Regions from separate parts of the Homo sapiens genome. Here region 1 is linked to region 2. Evidence: fine-mapped expression QTL. Tissue or cell type: whole blood. Region 2 holds a variant in brackets; the other region holds the start of a gene. All regions are shown on one strand. Distances are from middle to middle.

Region 1 (8,106 bases), 270 kb after region 2:
ATTGGCCAGGCGTGGTGGGGTACATCTGTAGTCCCAGACACTCAAGAGGCTGAGGTGGAGGGACTGCTTGAACCTCAGGACGACGACGCTGCAGTGAGCTGTGATCATGCCACTACACTTTGCACTCCAGCCTCGGAGACAGAGCAAGACCCTGTCTCAAAAACAAGAAGGTAGCAAAAGAAGATTTAATATTTTCTGATAGGAATGGAAAACCAAACATCGTGTGTTCTCACTGATGTGTAGGAGCTAAGCTATGAGGATGCAAAGGCATAAGAATGATACAGTGAACTTTGGGGACTTGAGGGAAGAGTGGGAGGGGGCAAGGGATAAAAGACAACCAATATGGTGCACTGTATTCTCCTCGGGTGATGGGTGCACCAAAATCTCACAAACCACCACTAAAGAACTTACTCATGGCCGGGCGTGGTGGCTCATGCCTGTAATCCCAGCACTTTGGGAGGCCGAGGCGGGCGGATCACGAGGTCAGGAGATCAAGACCATCCTGGCTAACACGGTGAAACCCCATCTCTACTAAAAATACAAAAAATTAGCTGGGCGTGGTGGCGGGCGCCTGTAATCCCAGCTACAGGAGGCTGAGGCAGGAGAATGGCGTGAACCTGGTAGGCGGAGCTTGCAGTGAGCTGAGATCCAGCCACTGCACTCCAGCCTGGGGGACAGAGCGAGACTCCGTCTCAGAAAAAAAAAGAACTTACTCATTAACCAAATACCACCTGTACCCCAATAACGTATGGAAAAAAAATTCTGATATGTTTCTCCTGCATTTGGATGAGGATGTAAATTCAACTCTAATAAATTACAGTGTATCAAAAGGATTAAAGGGTCTCTCCCTGCATTCTCTCCTAGCTCTGTTCCATCCTACACACAGCTGCTGGATTAATCTTCCAAAACACCAATTTTCTCATGCCACTTTTCAAAAACTAGCTTCCTGGCTTCCTGTTGTCTAAAAACTAGTTTCAGATGCTTTTGTCTGGCATTCAAGAAGGTCAGTAGTCTAGAGCCTCCTAAATGTTTCACTCCTGCTCCTTCCTTCTACCACTTACCACCTGTGTGCTCTTGGGTTAGTTGTTATTATTATTATTATTTTTTGAGATGGAGTCTCACTCTGTCGCCAGGCTGGAGTACAATGGTGTGATCTCAACTCACTGCAACCTCCCCCTCCTGGGTTTAAGTGATTCTCCCACCTCAGCCTCCTAAGTAGCTGAGAGTACAGGCGCCTGCCACCACGCCCAGCTTGGGCTAATTATTTTAAGACCGGTCCCCCTGTCCCTGTAAAGATCCCACGCACCTCCTCCACTCAGTGGCTCACTGTAGCAATGCCCTGAAAGGCTGTAATTGAGTCATATTCCAGCCCCTGGACTCAGGAGTCAGGGGTGATGTCGCCACCACCTAATTGCTTGGATTGAGGATGGGAACAGTGATTCTCAAGAAGAAAACTTGGACACTATTACCAGAAGTTAGTACAACTGCCTTAAAGCACTCTGGGCAAAATTTAACAACTGTCTGTTCCAAAAATGCAGAGACATGGAAACTTAGTAACTCTTGTTGGGGCATCTTCCATCACATATGATTCACTAAGGGTATATCAAGCAAATTCAACTGTAGGAACTGGCACATTCTGAGGCATAGGGTCTCTTATGTTCCTAAATTTATATTTTACCATCGTGGTTCTAGCCACTTTTCTGTAGATCAGTCCCACTTGAGCAGCCCAGTTTGCTGGGTTTTATCTGTATGGAATGTACATATCCTTTGAAGTAAGACACATGTGGTTCAATAATGTAACTTTTTAGATTGCAGAAATTTCACTGTAACACTTACCTCAAATGGCATAAAATAAGCAAAAACATGTATTCTGTGATGAATCAAACAAAATATATTTTGAGTTGTTGTTTCCCCCATTTAAAACAGCACATTTCTGATCATTGTCATCTGTTTGTGAAAAGACATGAGACCAACAGTCCTTTCCACACTTACGGCTGCAGCCTTGTGCCCATGAGTTAAAGCCTCGGAATTTGCCTGAAACTTTCCCTGTCAATCCGAGATGGTCATGACCAAGCCACTTTGCTTCCATACATCTTCAGTGCCTCCTTCCACACACACATCTTTCCTGGTTTAAACTTTCATTTCTCCAGTACTATAGCAAAACAGTATTTGCAAATCTCTTTTGACCACAAACTCCTAACAGTCAGGGACTTCTCATTTGGATTTCCCCAGGGCTTGGAATTTTGTTTTGTTCATGGGGAGGGGGTGAGATTTTTAAAATTGCATTAATGAATGAAACCAATCAATCCATTGCTCCATGCTGTGTACAAACACTGTAATAAATATTGGTTGACTTCTTATAACTAAGGCAATAGGAGCTTCTCTCAATAAACTAAATTCCAAGGAAAGAATGAAGGTAGGAAAGTAGCTGGTTTATTTGCACCTACTATATGACAGGCCTTAGTTTAGGTTTGTTTGTTTGCTTGCCTGGAGACAGGGTCTCATTCTGTCACCCAGTGGTGTGGTCTGATCATAGCTCCCTGAGGTCTGTAACTCCTTGGCTCAAGTGACCCTCGTGCTTCACCCTCCGAGAGTAGCAGGGACTACAGGCATGTACCACCATGCTCAGCTAATTTTTTTTTTTTTTTGTCAGAGTCTTGCTCTATCACCCAGGCTGGAGTGCAGTGGCACAATCTCAGCTCACTGCAGCTCTGCCTCCCAGGTTTAAGCGATTCTCCTGCCTCAGCCTCCCAAGTAGTTGGGTGCCTGCCACCACACCTGGCTAATTTTTGTATTTGTATTTGTATTTATTTATTTATTTATTTATTTTGAGATGGAGTCTCACTCTGTCACCCAGGCTGGAGTGCAGTGGCATGATCTCAGCTCACTGATCCTCCACCTCCTGGATTCAAGTGATTCTCCTGCCTCAGCCTCCCAAGTAGCTGGGATTACAGGTGCCTGTCACCACGCCCAGCTAATTTTTGTATTTTAAGCAGAGACGGGGTTTCACCATGTTGGGCAGTCTGATCTCGAACTTCTGACTTCAAGCGATCCACCCACCTTGGCCTCCCAAAGTGCTGGGATCCAGCTAATATTTAAATTATTTTGTAGAGACTGGGTCTCAAAATGTTGCATAGGCTGGTCTTGAACTCCTTGCCTCAAGCAATCCTGCCACCTTGGCCTCCGAAAGTGCTGAAATTGCATGTGTGAGCCACCATGCCCAGCCAGTATTTTCACATAAACATTATTTCAGTGAATTCTCACAATCCTGCAGACACTTGCAGACTCAGTTTTGGTTTCTTACTTAATGTAACACAACCTTAGAGTGACAGGTCCATCAGCGAAATCCAGCATATTTGACTCCATGATTACCAAATGCACTATCTCCATTTATTGGAAAAGGAAAATTGGAGGTCACTCAAAGAGCAGTGAAGTTATGGAAATATGAAATTTTTCACATGACTCTGAGATTGAGTGTTTGGGTACTATCGGGAAATGTTAAAAATGTCCATTTTCTTTTCTTTCTTTCTTTCTTTTTTTTTTTTTTTTTTTTTTGAGACAGAGTCTCACTCTGTCGCCCAGGCTGGAGTGCCGTGGTGCAATCTCAGCTTACTGCAACCTCCACCTCCCAGGTTCAAGCGATTCTTTTGCCTCAGCTTCCTGAGTGGCTGGGAGTACAGGCATGTGCCACCAATCCAGCTAAGTTTTTTGTATTTTTAGTAGCGGTGGGGTTTCATCACATTGGCCAGGCTGGCCTCGAACTCCTGACCTCAAATAATCCACCTGCCTTGGGCTCCCAAAGTGCTGGGGTTACAGGTGTGAGCCACTGCACCCAGCCCAAAAATGTCTATTTTCAATAGTGGTTTAAAACACTCTTGGACAGCAAAAGAAATAAAAGTTGAAGGACATTGTGACAGCAAATTGATTGTATGGGAACTCTGGTGAATGCGAATCATTTTTAAATTACTTTTTTTGTAAAGTGCAAAACAACAATAGCACCCATTTGCGTCATACTTTATAGTTCGCAAAGCACATGGGAAAAATAAAGGTAATGATGGGGATCGTTGCAATTCATAGGAAAGGAGGCACGAGGAAATGAAAATGAAAGGGAGTAATAACTACGTAACTAGTCAATCTTCCTTAAAAAAAAAAACCCTTAAAATATACCACCATCTTCTATTTGATATAATGCAGAATGGGAATGATAAAAACATGAATTACATTTCAGAGTTTCAAAAAGCAAACCAGCTTTATAGCAATGCTTGAGGTTGGGCTGCTAACAAGCTCACTCAACTAGTGTTTCCTGACGGCCAACGTCAGAATAATTCCATCTCCATGAGAAGTACAGAAAGAACCACAAACCAAACCTCCAAATTGATTCTAAGATAAAATACCCTTAAAAAAAATTTCCCTTCCTATCCGAAGGCAGACCAAGAGGAAGTTTATCCTCCCACCTACAAATTCCCCAGAGAGCTTTCATCTAGAAGGTTTGACTCTGGCCAGACAACCAGCGAGCATCTTCTCGCAATCTGTTGCTTCTTCCATGGCAAACTCCAGAGAATTAAGAAGCCAAACTCAACATCGCCATGGGCCTCAGGACGACTAAACAGATGGGGAGAGGCACTAAAGCTCCTGGTCACCAAGAGGGTATGTAGGCATTTGCTGTCTTCCTGGATTTCTCAGAGCTGAGTTTTTAGCCAGAGGTTGCTTATTTACGATAATTCTTGGATATATTATACACTAAATACTATTATTATCTTTTTCGACCCGACTTTTATCTTTCTGTTCTTATGTGTGAAGGCAGAGAAAGATTATTTAGAGCTCTTCAAAGATTCCTATTTAATTTAAAATGCCTGTCGCCTTCCTATAATAGGCTTATGATGGATGATAGCTTTAGTTAAAATGTAGCAATCTTAAATATATTCTTCATAACCAATTCCAACGTGTTCTCACTTAAGTAATGGGTATAAAACCCCACTTAAGCGTAATATTTTAAATATTTGAAGCCATCTTTTCTGAGAGAACCCGAAGCTGTTTTTTCTAGAGAAGCTGTGAGTGTGTATTGGGCGACTTCTGTTCACTCCTTTTCTGCAGCACTCACCCTGGAGGTCATGTAGTAACTAATGCCAAAGAAAAATCAAAATAGAAAGTACCAGCGTGTGCCATCATGCAGCGGCAGAGCCTGCTTAAAGATCAGGAAATTTGTCTAAATATCAGATCGCCGGCGGGCATCTCAGCCCAGGCCTGTGTAAGGGGAGTTCTGGTGTCTCAGCTGAGGGCGTGAGTAGGGAGCCAGGAAAGCGACCCGCGACTGCAGCCGTTTCTTAAGGCCAGTCCTTCGCTCGCAGTCTGTCCCGGGCGGCAGTCGTGTCAGCCCCCCGCTAGGACCCGCCCAGGGGGACGTGGGTACCGGGCAGGACGCGCGCTCTGGGCGCTGGGGACGCCCGGGACACTCGGGGCCCCGCCTTGCGTCCCAGCCCCGGGTCGCGGCACCCCGGCTCCCGCCCCGCGCCTCTGGAGGGAGGTACCGAGGGACGCGCAGCGAAGGGGCTTTGCTAATTGCCAAAGCAGGAAGTGAGCTCGTGGAAGAAGCGAAGGAGGAGAAGAAGAAGGGAGGGGAAGGCGGAGGAGGGCAGGGGCGCGCAGAGCCACGGTTTGCTCCAGGCGCGTCGGAACCGCAGGACTTTTCATCCCCGTGGTCCCACGGTCCTCCCGCGCCCCGGAGGCCTGCCAGCCCCGCTCGGACGCTCGTTTGCCCCTAACCCGCCGCCATGGCTTCACCGGACGACCCTCTGCGCGCAGGTAAAGGGACACAGCGCCGCGCCCGCTCCTGGAGCGAGCACCGCGGGGCGGGAGCTCGGGAGGCGCTCGCAGCAGCCGCAGGGCTATCGAGGCCGGGCCTCGGCGACCCCCGAGGGAGGCCCGGGAACCACCCCCGACCCAGGCGCCAGACCCGGAGTCGCACGGGGCTCCCAGTCCAGCCCCGCGAGCGGCTGCTGACCGCCCCTCCCGCGCTCGCCAGGGCCCCTGCCCCGCGTCAGCCACCGCGCGCCTTCCCCCTGCCCATGCCGCAGCCCCCGTGGCTTTTGTTCTGGACTCGGGATGCCAGGTTGAGACACGTCCTGCAAACCTCTGGCAGAAATGGGCGCAAGGGGGTGGATTTCGTTTTCGCCTCCCGGGCTTTTTCTTTCTCCCCGCTCACATGCCTTCTCATTACTCCTCTTCCTCTCTCCCATTGCACTTTGATGAAATGGTTTTGTCTGTCTAAACATTGGCCCTCGGAGCTATTTCATCAGATAGTATCCGCAGAATCGAGAGGCGGATCCCACCTGTGGGATCCCATCTGTGATTAGAATGGCCTCTAGTTCTGTCTTTATTTTAAAATATTGTGTGTTGGTACCCGAGGTCGGAGTGGAGATTTTTCTCTATTCTCTCACGTGAATCTAAAATCCGTCCCAGACCTCGCTTTCCTGGAGTTCTCTCTCTCCGCTGTCCTATAACCTAGACGGTGACATCCGTGGGTGTTTCTTGAACACACGAATGAATGATCTATCCCTCAGAGTACACTGGGGCTTTACTTGGTTTTGTTGAGGTTGGAAACACTGAAGAGAGTTACACAGAACCTGATATAACCGTTTAGATAAACGCGTTTCCTATTTCATTTCTTGAGCTTGGGCAGGGGCCGAGTTTGAATGTTCCATCCTTAAATTGTGGCTTCAGCAGTCAAAAGGAGACAGTGTGTCTGCAGGTGGTCAGAAGACTACACCCAACAACTAAGTTGGCATTGTGATGGCTGGGTTTGGGGGCGTTTCTTGGAAACTTCAAAGAAAGATCTACCTTTTTTTTTTTTAAGTGGGGATTGTTAAACATTTTATCAATTGGATGCGGAAAATAAATACATTGTCTAGATATTCTTCCCCATCCCCATACCTATTGTTTGAAAAAACAGAAGGGGAAACAAAGGGAGAAACCCTCCTACTGCCCCATCCCACTCCACTCCTACCCTAGCATCCACCTCCTTTTCTGAGAACTGAATTGACAAGGTGCCAAGGGGTGTTTTAGGCTGGATTTTACTACTAGTGGCCTCAGATCTCATTAAATGATGATTGCAGGGGTGGGGGGTGGGGGAATTCAAAAAGATCTTGAGAGAGATACACTGCATGGAGATAAAATGTAAAATCTACTTGGGCTCCCCTAAATCGACAGTACCAGGCAAGATGGGGGCTGGGAAACAGCTCAGCAGTGACCACAGTGTGTAAAAAGCTCAGTGGCTGGGTGCAGTGGCTCAGGCCTGTAATGCCAGCACTTTGGGAGGCTGAGGCAAGAGGATTGCTTCAGGCCAGGAGTTTGAGATCAGCCTTGGCAACATAGTGAGACCCTGACTCTACAAAAAATAGAAAAATTAGCCAAATGTGCCAGTGCATACCTATAGTCCCAGCTACTCGGGGGGCTGAGGCAGGAGGATTGCTTGAGTCCAGGAGGTCGAGGCTGCAGTAAGCCACTGCACTCCAGCCTGGGTGACAGAGCAAAAACCTGTATCTCAAAATAAATAAATAAATAAATAAAAAGCTACAGGTTCCAGATTTCCCAAGATGGTGTTCTTAGTCTGCCCAGCCCAGCCAAAATGGATGTGCACAACCTGGAACAAATGGGCAACATGGAACAAAGGGATTTCAAAATCCCAGGACATGTGGAGGAGTGAGAGGACAGAGGATATGATGATAAGAGGGCGTCATGTGGAAAGAATCTGTCTCTTTGACTTCAAGAGGTAGAACCCAAACCTGTCGGTGAAAACTTTAGAGAGAGATGGATTTGGGCTTCCTACAAAGAGAAAGGAGGCCTCCTAAGGGTGAGAGCTCCCCACCAGTTGGCAGAGGATGCTGAAGAACATACTTGACCATCTGAAAGATGATCCAAATGTCCATTCCCGCTCTGGGACTCTATTCTGTCTATAAAATGAGCGCTCCTCCATTTAAACACAGGCGCACACACACACCCCAATTTCCCCTTCCTAACATATTGTTTCGTTTCTGCAACCCACAGGAGACATCCCCTTACTCCTATTTCTGTAATGAAACCATAGATGGTGCCCATATCTTGAGCTCG
Region 2 (8,106 bases):
TAATGTTTTAAAAGAATATTCCATAATATGAGAAAATATTCATGCTATATTTAGTGGAAGGAATAGGTTATGTAAAATATACTGTTTTTGTTTGTTTGTTTGTTTGAGATGGAGTTTTGCTCTTGTTGCCCAGGCTGGAGTGCAATGGTGTCATCTCGGCTCTCTGCAACCTCTGCTTCCCAGGTTCAAGCGATTCTTCTGCCTCAGCCTCCTGAGTAGCTGGGATTACAGGCATGCACTACCACACCTGGCTAATGTTTTGTATTTAGTAGAGATGGGGTTTCACCATATTGGTCAGGCTGGTCTCGAAGTCCTGACCTCAGGTGATCCACCCACCTCAGCCTCCCTAAGTGCTGGGATTGCAGGCATAATCCACCACACTTGGCCAATATACCATAATTTTTAAAAGGGCATTTACAGAAAGACTATCAGTAAGTCTGGTATAATACATATAAACTGTGGGGTTACCAGGAATGCATATCTGCTTCTTTATACTTTTCTGTATTTTCCAGATTTTTAATTATGAATATGAATATGAGTATGAAGCTATAATAAGAAAAGTTATTTGAAAGTCACATTATCAAATTGTTCAGGTTATCATGGCCAGGCAGGGTGGCTCATGCCTGTAATCCCAACACTTTTCGAGGCCGAGGTGGGCAAATCGCTTGAGCCCAGGGGCTCGATACCAGCCTGAGCAACATGGCAAAACCTTGTCTCTACAAAAACTATAAAAATTAGCCAGATATGATGGTGCACACCTGTGATTCCAGCTACTAGGGAGGCTGCAGTGGGAGGATTGCTTGAGCCCAGGAGGCAGAGTTTGCAGTGAGTCATGATTTCACCACTGCACTCCAGCCTGGGCAAAAGAGCAGGACCCTGTCTCCAGAAAGAAAAAAAAAAGTGTCAAGTTGAGAGACAATGGTTATTTTTTATTTTTGAGATGGAGTCTCGCTCTGTCACTCAGGCTGGAGTGCAGTGGCACCATCTCGGCTCACTGCAACCTCCATCTCCCGGGTTCAAGTGATTCTTCTGCTTCAGCCTCCCGAGTAGCTGGGACTTCAGGCACGAGCCACCTCGTCCGGGTAATTTTTGTATTTTTAGTAGAGACGGGGTTTCACCATATTGGCCAGGCTGGTCTCAAACTCCTAGACCTCATGATCCGCCCACCTCGGCCTCCCAAAGTGCTGGGATTACAGGTGTGAGCCATTGCGCCTGGCCAACAATGATTATTTTTAATTTTATTCCATGGTTTTCTATATTTTCCAAATTCTTCTCAATAACATAAAAATGATTTCATATTGTATTAATTACTACAATGCAACATTGTAAGGTCGGGGGACGCTGATGGTAGTCTACCTCCTGATCCTCTAGTATGCAGTATTTCACCCAGGGTTTTCACAAGCAGTTTCTCATTTGGTCCTCAGAGGACCCTATACCTAGGTGAGGATGGCGGTGCTGCTTCTGAGAAGTCGCTGCCTCCCCTTCTCCCTTTAGCCTCCCTGGCAAAATAAGACACTTCGATTGCGGGGCCACAGTCAGTTCTGACTCTGATATCTTACGACACCTATCAGGGATCAGCCTGGACCTGTTACCTGAGCGGGGTGTGGCCTCCTTTCCTCTGCGCTTTCCCCACACCTGAAACTCCTGATCATTCAGCCCCTTACCTCTCCCAAGCTTTCAGCACGAGCTCTCCTTCTTAGCCTTCTAAATAAATAAACAACACCTGCACAGAACACTGCCATTTTCTGTAAGCTTTTCTTCCCCTTTAAAAATTGCAGTAAAATATACATAAGACAAAATGTATCATTTAAATCATTTTAAGTGTACAATTCAGTGGGGTGATATACATAAGGCAAAATGTATTATTTAAATCATTTTAAGTGTAAAATCCAGTGCCTTTAAGTCCCTTCACGATGTCGTTGCAACTGTCACCACCATCCAGCTCCGGAACTTCTTAATCATCCGTGGGTAAGCTTTTGAAGCTTTTGAATCCATAGTCTCATAACATTTTATTGCCGTCCTCATCGTCAGGTGAGGAAACTGAGGCTTTCTTCCTTACCTTGCTTTTGTGTTTTCTCTTTAACACTTGCACTCTGGCTTTTGCCCGTGGCTGTCCTGGAACTGACTCCCTTCAGGCTGTCAAAGGCCTCCTGGGGGCTGAGTTTCATGGGCTGCTTCCTGGTCTTGTCTTGTTTCTGGTCTGCAGCATTTGACAATCTTGTTTTCCAATCTCTCTTAGAAATTATCTCCTCCCCAGGTTTCCATAATACTCTCTGTCTTGAGTTTCCTACTACTAATTCTTGGGTGTTTTCTTGTCCTTTTCTTTTCATGTTTTTCTGTTTGATTGTTTTGTTTCTTTTTGTTGTTTTGAGACGGAGTCTCGCTCTGTTTCCTAGGCTGGACAGCAGTTGCTTTATCCTAGAACTTATGATGTAGCTGCCTGTGTGCCCATCTGTCTCCACAACAGAGCAAGGTCCTGGAAGCAGAGGTCGGGGGCGTGGGGGAGGTCTTGCTTGTCCTCTTTATGTCTCAGTGCTTAGTGTACCTTATATTTGGACAATGAATAAATAAATGTGCGCTGCTCTAGAAAAGAGATCATTGTCTCAATGGAGTGAAAATCAGTAAGGGGTAGGTCTCGGCTCACTGCAACCTCCACCTCCCTGGTTCAAGTAATTCTCCTGCCTCAGTCTCCCGAGTAGCTGGGATTACAAGCGCTCACCAACCCGCCAGGCTAAATTTTTGTATTTTTAGTAAGAGATGGGGTTTCACCACATTGGCCAGGCTGGCCTTGAACTCCTGACCTCAGTTGATCTGCGGGCCTCGGCCTCCCAAAGTGCTGGGATTACAGGCGTAAGCCACTGTGCCTGGCCCCTTTTCATGTTTTTATGTTTTGAGACGGAGTCTCGCTCTGTCACCCAGGCTGGAGTGCAATGGCGTGATCTCGGCTCACTGCAACCTCCACCTCCCTGGCTCAAGCGATTTTCCTGCCTCAGCCTCTCAAGTAGCTGGGATTACAGGCGTGAGCTACCACCCGGCCTCTTTTCATGTTTTTAAATTAGTCTCCCCTTTTTATTTTATTTTATTTTTTAGATAGAGACAGGGTCTCGCTATGTTGCCCAGGCTGGTCTCGAACTCCTGGACTCAAGCAGGTTCTTTTCTTCAGGCTTCTCCTTCTCCTGCCTCAGGAACTCATCCTCACTCCCTGCAACGTTTCAATAAGCACTTGCCTGGTTTGCCTGCCTCTGGCCTTGCTAATTAGACAACTACGATCTTTCTACCAGGAAAGTGTGATCCTGCCCTCAAGTCTACAAGGGCGGCCTGAGCTGACATGATAACATCTAACCTCTTTAGTTAGATATAGGATGTCCCTTGTCATCTGGCCCCTGGTGACCTCTAACAATATCCCCATCCCACTCCACCCCTTTACAGTCTGCAGTAGAACCGTCTGCAGTCCCAGTGCTGGAAGCCCAGGCTGCCTCATGCCTCCCTGTCTCTGCATACATGGTCGCTTTATCCTAGAACATATGATGTAGTTGCCCGTGTGCCCATCTGTCTCCACAACAGAGCAAGGTCCTGGAAGCAGGGGTAGGGGCGTCGGGGAGGTCTTGCTTGTCCTCTTTATGTCTCAGTGCTTAGTGTACCTTATATTTGGACAATGAATAAATAAATGTGCGCTGCTCTAGAAAAGAGATCATTGTCTCGATGGAGTGAAAATCAGTAAGGGGCAGAGTAAGGACTGGACATCAGGTCTTGGAAAGTTCTGACCCTTCCCACTATGTAAACATCCTTTCTACTGAGGGACCTCACGGGGTGACAAAGCCTTAGAGGAAATGTACGCAGTCTCTGCATGGTCCTAAGAAAATAAAGGAAATAAAGTAAGTGTTGTAATCCTGGACTGGAGTAGAAAGACTTCTTAGGGGGAGGCATTTTAAGGAGGGTGGAGAGGGGGATGCTTCCCGCCTCCGGATCACAGTCTACGAGAGCTTGCTGCTTTAGATGAGCCCACACCAGACCGAGACACAGGCAGAGCGGTGCGGCTGAAAGACATCTCTGCATCAGAAAACTTGAGTCCTGGTTTTTTCTACATCTGCCGCTGACTAGCAGATCTCAGAAGGCCCAGCAGCCTTCAGGTGTAAAACAAAGGAGTATTTTCCATCTCTTTCAACCCGAAAATCCAGAAAGTGGGGACATCTGTGTTTGAAGATTGTTCAACATTTTTCAGATTAAACTGATCCACATTTTCCAAGGTATCAAAGTGGTGGCTGCATCCTCTCATGGTGCTGGGAATCACAGACTTCTCCCCTCACCCTTGATTGTGACCTGATTCTAGAAGACGGTTGCTGATAGAAATGTCCAAGTTATTCAAGGGGCTTCTCTAGAGGAAACAACTTCCATTTCACTCTTGATTCTCTAGAGGAAATATAACTTTCGTTTCACTCTTGATTCTCGAGAGGAAACAACTTCTGTTTCACTCTTGATTTTCACTATTTTCACGTTACGGGTTGAGATAAATGGCCTTAGATTTGACTCATCGAGGAGAGAGCGATTCTGCCTAGAGTTCTTTGAAAGCCGGCTGTACTGAGTGAGATCCTAGGTCACTGCAGAGAAGGAAAGGGAAGAGAAGTGGGGAGGGAGAGGGGAACAGAGAGGGGCACGGAGAGGGACAGGGAGATTGGTTTCCTTTGACAAACCCAGCTGGTTTCCTCGGTAGTTGTGTGTGGTTTCCACCAAACCCACCTATCACTTAGTTAGGACTGCTAATTAGGGGGCAGAGATGAGGACTGCTGTCTGTAGTCGTAAAGATGGTTACTAAGCAGGAGGCTGAGCTGGTGGTTGCAGCTGACACTGGAAATTCACCCAGCTTCGCCCCCCGGGAGAT[G/A]TGCCACCCCTACATCGTAGGCAGCTGTGGGCCACAGGCATTTCGTTCTCCAAAATCCTACATTCATCTTACTTCATTTAATGTTTGCAGCCACATAAGAAGTAGAAAACATAACTTGATTTCCAGATTAGAAGACTGAAGTTTGGACAGAAAAAATAACTTGCCCAGTGTCACCCAGCGGGCACACGGAGGAGCTGGGATTCAACATCAATGACTCCAGGACCATGGTCTGTCTCCACGAGACTAGTCTACCCACCTCGATTCTCTGCCTGGTAGGCCTTCCCCACTTTTCCACCTGCTAAATCAATCACACCTGGTTGCATCTCTCCTTCTTTCCTCCCCTAACCCAAGACTCTTTTTTGTTGTTGTTGTTTTGGAGATGGAGTTTGCTGTTGTTGCCCAGGCTGGAGTGCAGCGGCACGACCTCGGCTCACCACAGCCTCTGCCTCCCGGGTTCAAGCGATTCTCCTGCCTCAGCCTCCCGAGTAGCTGGGATTACAGGCACGCGCCACCATGCCCAGCTAATTTTTGTATTATTAGTAGAGATGGGGTTTCACCATGTTGCCCAGGGTGGTCTTGAACTCCTGACCTCAGGTGATCCACCCGCCTCAGCCTCCCAAAATGCTGGGATTACAGGCGTGAGCCACCATGCCCGGCCATATCCCATGACTCTCTAAAGCACTCTGTGGTTGTTTCTGGGTTATTTTCACTTCTCCAATTAGGAGGTAAGTTTTTTGGGGTCAAAGAGCATGTTTTCGACTTTGTTTTCATCCTATCCCAAATTGCCTGGTACCAAGCTTGGTAGCTGATGAGCCAACAGGGAACCCACGAATGACATTGTATTAGAAGACCACAGGCTTTGGGCTCAAGGAATGACCCTTCCCTTTTACAGTCCTGTCCACACCTCAACAGCCCTCTCGTAGCTCGGTGGATCTCAGCTGAATGTCAATGAGCCAGAGCTTCCCCTGACCACCCAAGCCCAAGTGTTGTCCCTGGCTATTCCTCCTCGTAGCATCTCTTTTTCCTCTTCATCGGACTTACTACAACGTGTACTCATAGGCTCATTTGAGTATCTACCTTATTTTCTCCACTAAAATGTGAACCCCAAGAGGCCAGGGACCATGGGCATTTTGACTCAAAACATATTCTTTGAATGACTTTAACAGAAACTTCCATCAACTTCTCAAAGGGCCAACCACATACGCAGTGAAGAGGGTTTCAAATGATGAATCAGGGACTTTTCCCTGTGTTCAGGCGTGAACCCCGACTCACCATGGGGTCGTATCCACATGCTCTCTCTTGACCTCAGTTCTTTACTTGCAAAGTAAGGATCATGGTTCTAGTCCCATTTACTCTCATAGGCTCTTGCCTGGAGAAAGTGAAATCATTTTAGCCTTGCTGTGTTGTTAAAGCCAAGGCCTAATGCCAACGTGACTAGTTATAAGCCCCTTGAGGAGGGGCTCATGTCTGACAAACACTCTGTCTCTCTGTCCCTCTCAACATAATTTTTGTGAACAGGCCAAGTAGATAAACAACTCAAAAAAATAAAAATATACAAAATGCATACAGTGACAACGTTCCCTTGCTCCTCTGTCCACACCTCCCCAGGTCCCACCCTTAACCATTACTATTGGTTTTATTCATAGCATTCCAGAGTTTATTTTTTTTTTTTATTTTATTTTACTTTATTTTCTGAGATGGAGTCTTGCTCTGTTGCCCAGGCTGGAGTGCAGTGGCCCTATCTCGGCTCACTGCAAACTCTGCCTCCCGGATTCCAGCAATTCTCCTGCCTAAGCCTGTCGAGTAGCTGGGACTACAGGCGCCCGCCACTATGCCTGGCTAATTTTTGTATTTTTAGTAGAGACGGGGTTTTGCCACGTTAGCCAGACTGGTCTCGAACTCCTGACCTTGGGTGATCCACCCGCCTCGGCCTCCCAAACTGCTGGGATTACAGACGTGAGCCACTGCGCCTGGCTGCCATTTTAAAATATACAATTAAACCATTATGGACCACAGTCCTCAGTGTGTGATCAAATACTCAGTATTATTCACTCTTTCTATTTTCCAGAGTTTCTATATCTGCCTACAAGTAACCATGAAAGCACTTCCCCTACAGGATCATGTCTTACCCTTGCAAGCTTTCCAACTGTCTTGCTCCATGCCCAACACCAGGTAAATCTTTAGTAAATTCAGTACATTTAGTAAATCTGTTGGTGGATTTGATTAACTAATGATCTTGAAACCAACACATTGGACAAGCAACAAGGTGAGTTTGCAATGTGTGTTACAGACGGATGAAAGCACACGCTGAACAGGGCCTACTCCAGTGAACCATCATCTGCCTGCATCTTTCCTGTTCCAGTCCAAGACCAATCCGGATACTTGGGCCTTGTTTTGTTTTGCTCTTCCTGGGAAGTGTCAGTTCATTGGTCGTTACAAGGATAATAGGAGTTACTTCCTGACTGCATGAAAAGTACATAGAACAGAGCCTGGCACAGAGAGAGAAGCCAATGAGCAGCAGGAATGATGATCACAGGCAATCTTCCCTTCCGCCACCACTCACCTCAGATGACCTGGTGAGCCTTGTGTCACAGGCTGGGTACTTCCCCCGGAATTCACATGTTGAAGCTCTAACCCGCAGTACCCAGAATGTGACTGTATTTGGAGAGAGGGCCTTCTCTCCAAATAGAAGGAGGTAATTAAGGTAAAATGAGGCCATTAGTGTGGGTCCTAATCGGATATGACTGGTCCTGATGAGAAGTGGAGATTAGGATACTGACACACACAGAGGGAAGCCCATGTGAGGACCCAGGGGAGGGAGGCTGTCTGTGACCAAGGAGAGTGGCATCAGGAGAAACCAGCCCTGCCAACGCCTTGGCCTCCAACTTTCAGCTTCCAGAACTGGAGATTTGTGTCATTCAAGCCTCCCAGTCTGTGGCACTTTGTCATGGCAGCTCAAGCCGACTAGCACACCTTGCCTAGCCCTGCTTTTCTCAAATATGTTCAACTAGAGAAGTTGTCTTGATTGTTTAGAGCCAAGCCCTGTGCTGCTACAAGGGCATAGGCTGAACCAACCACCTGTCAAGGAGTTTCCATGCAGAAGGGGGTGAAGGAGGCTTCACCCTAAGGTGAGCCCCTTGACCCTCTCCCCAGGAATTCTCCAGCTATGCCTGGGGATGGAAGCTGCCTTCCTGACTACTCTTCTGTTGTTGTTAAGCGCTGGGGTC

What was found. PIP is the estimated chance that this variant, and not a neighbour inherited with it, causes the effect.
Region 1: it holds the start of EDARADD, and the variant in region 2 is fine-mapped to the expression of EDARADD in whole blood (TOPMed, PIP 0.99).

Annotation. Positions count from the first base shown.
Region 1 is chr1:236,389,859-236,397,964 of GRCh38, forward strand. EDARADD (EDAR associated via death domain) reads left to right here and starts at 4,428. Exons shown (of 6, transcript NM_145861.4): 1 at 4,428-4,647. The coding sequence starts at 4,587. RefSeq lists silencers at 1-142, 5,300-5,709 and an enhancer at 5,050-5,099.
Region 2 is chr1:236,116,316-236,124,421 of GRCh38, forward strand. No RefSeq gene overlaps it. Among named protein-coding and RNA genes, the nearest start is that of GPR137B, 22 kb to the right of the region's middle. RefSeq lists an enhancer at 4,363-4,482. The variant G/A (reference allele first, on the strand shown) is at 4,880.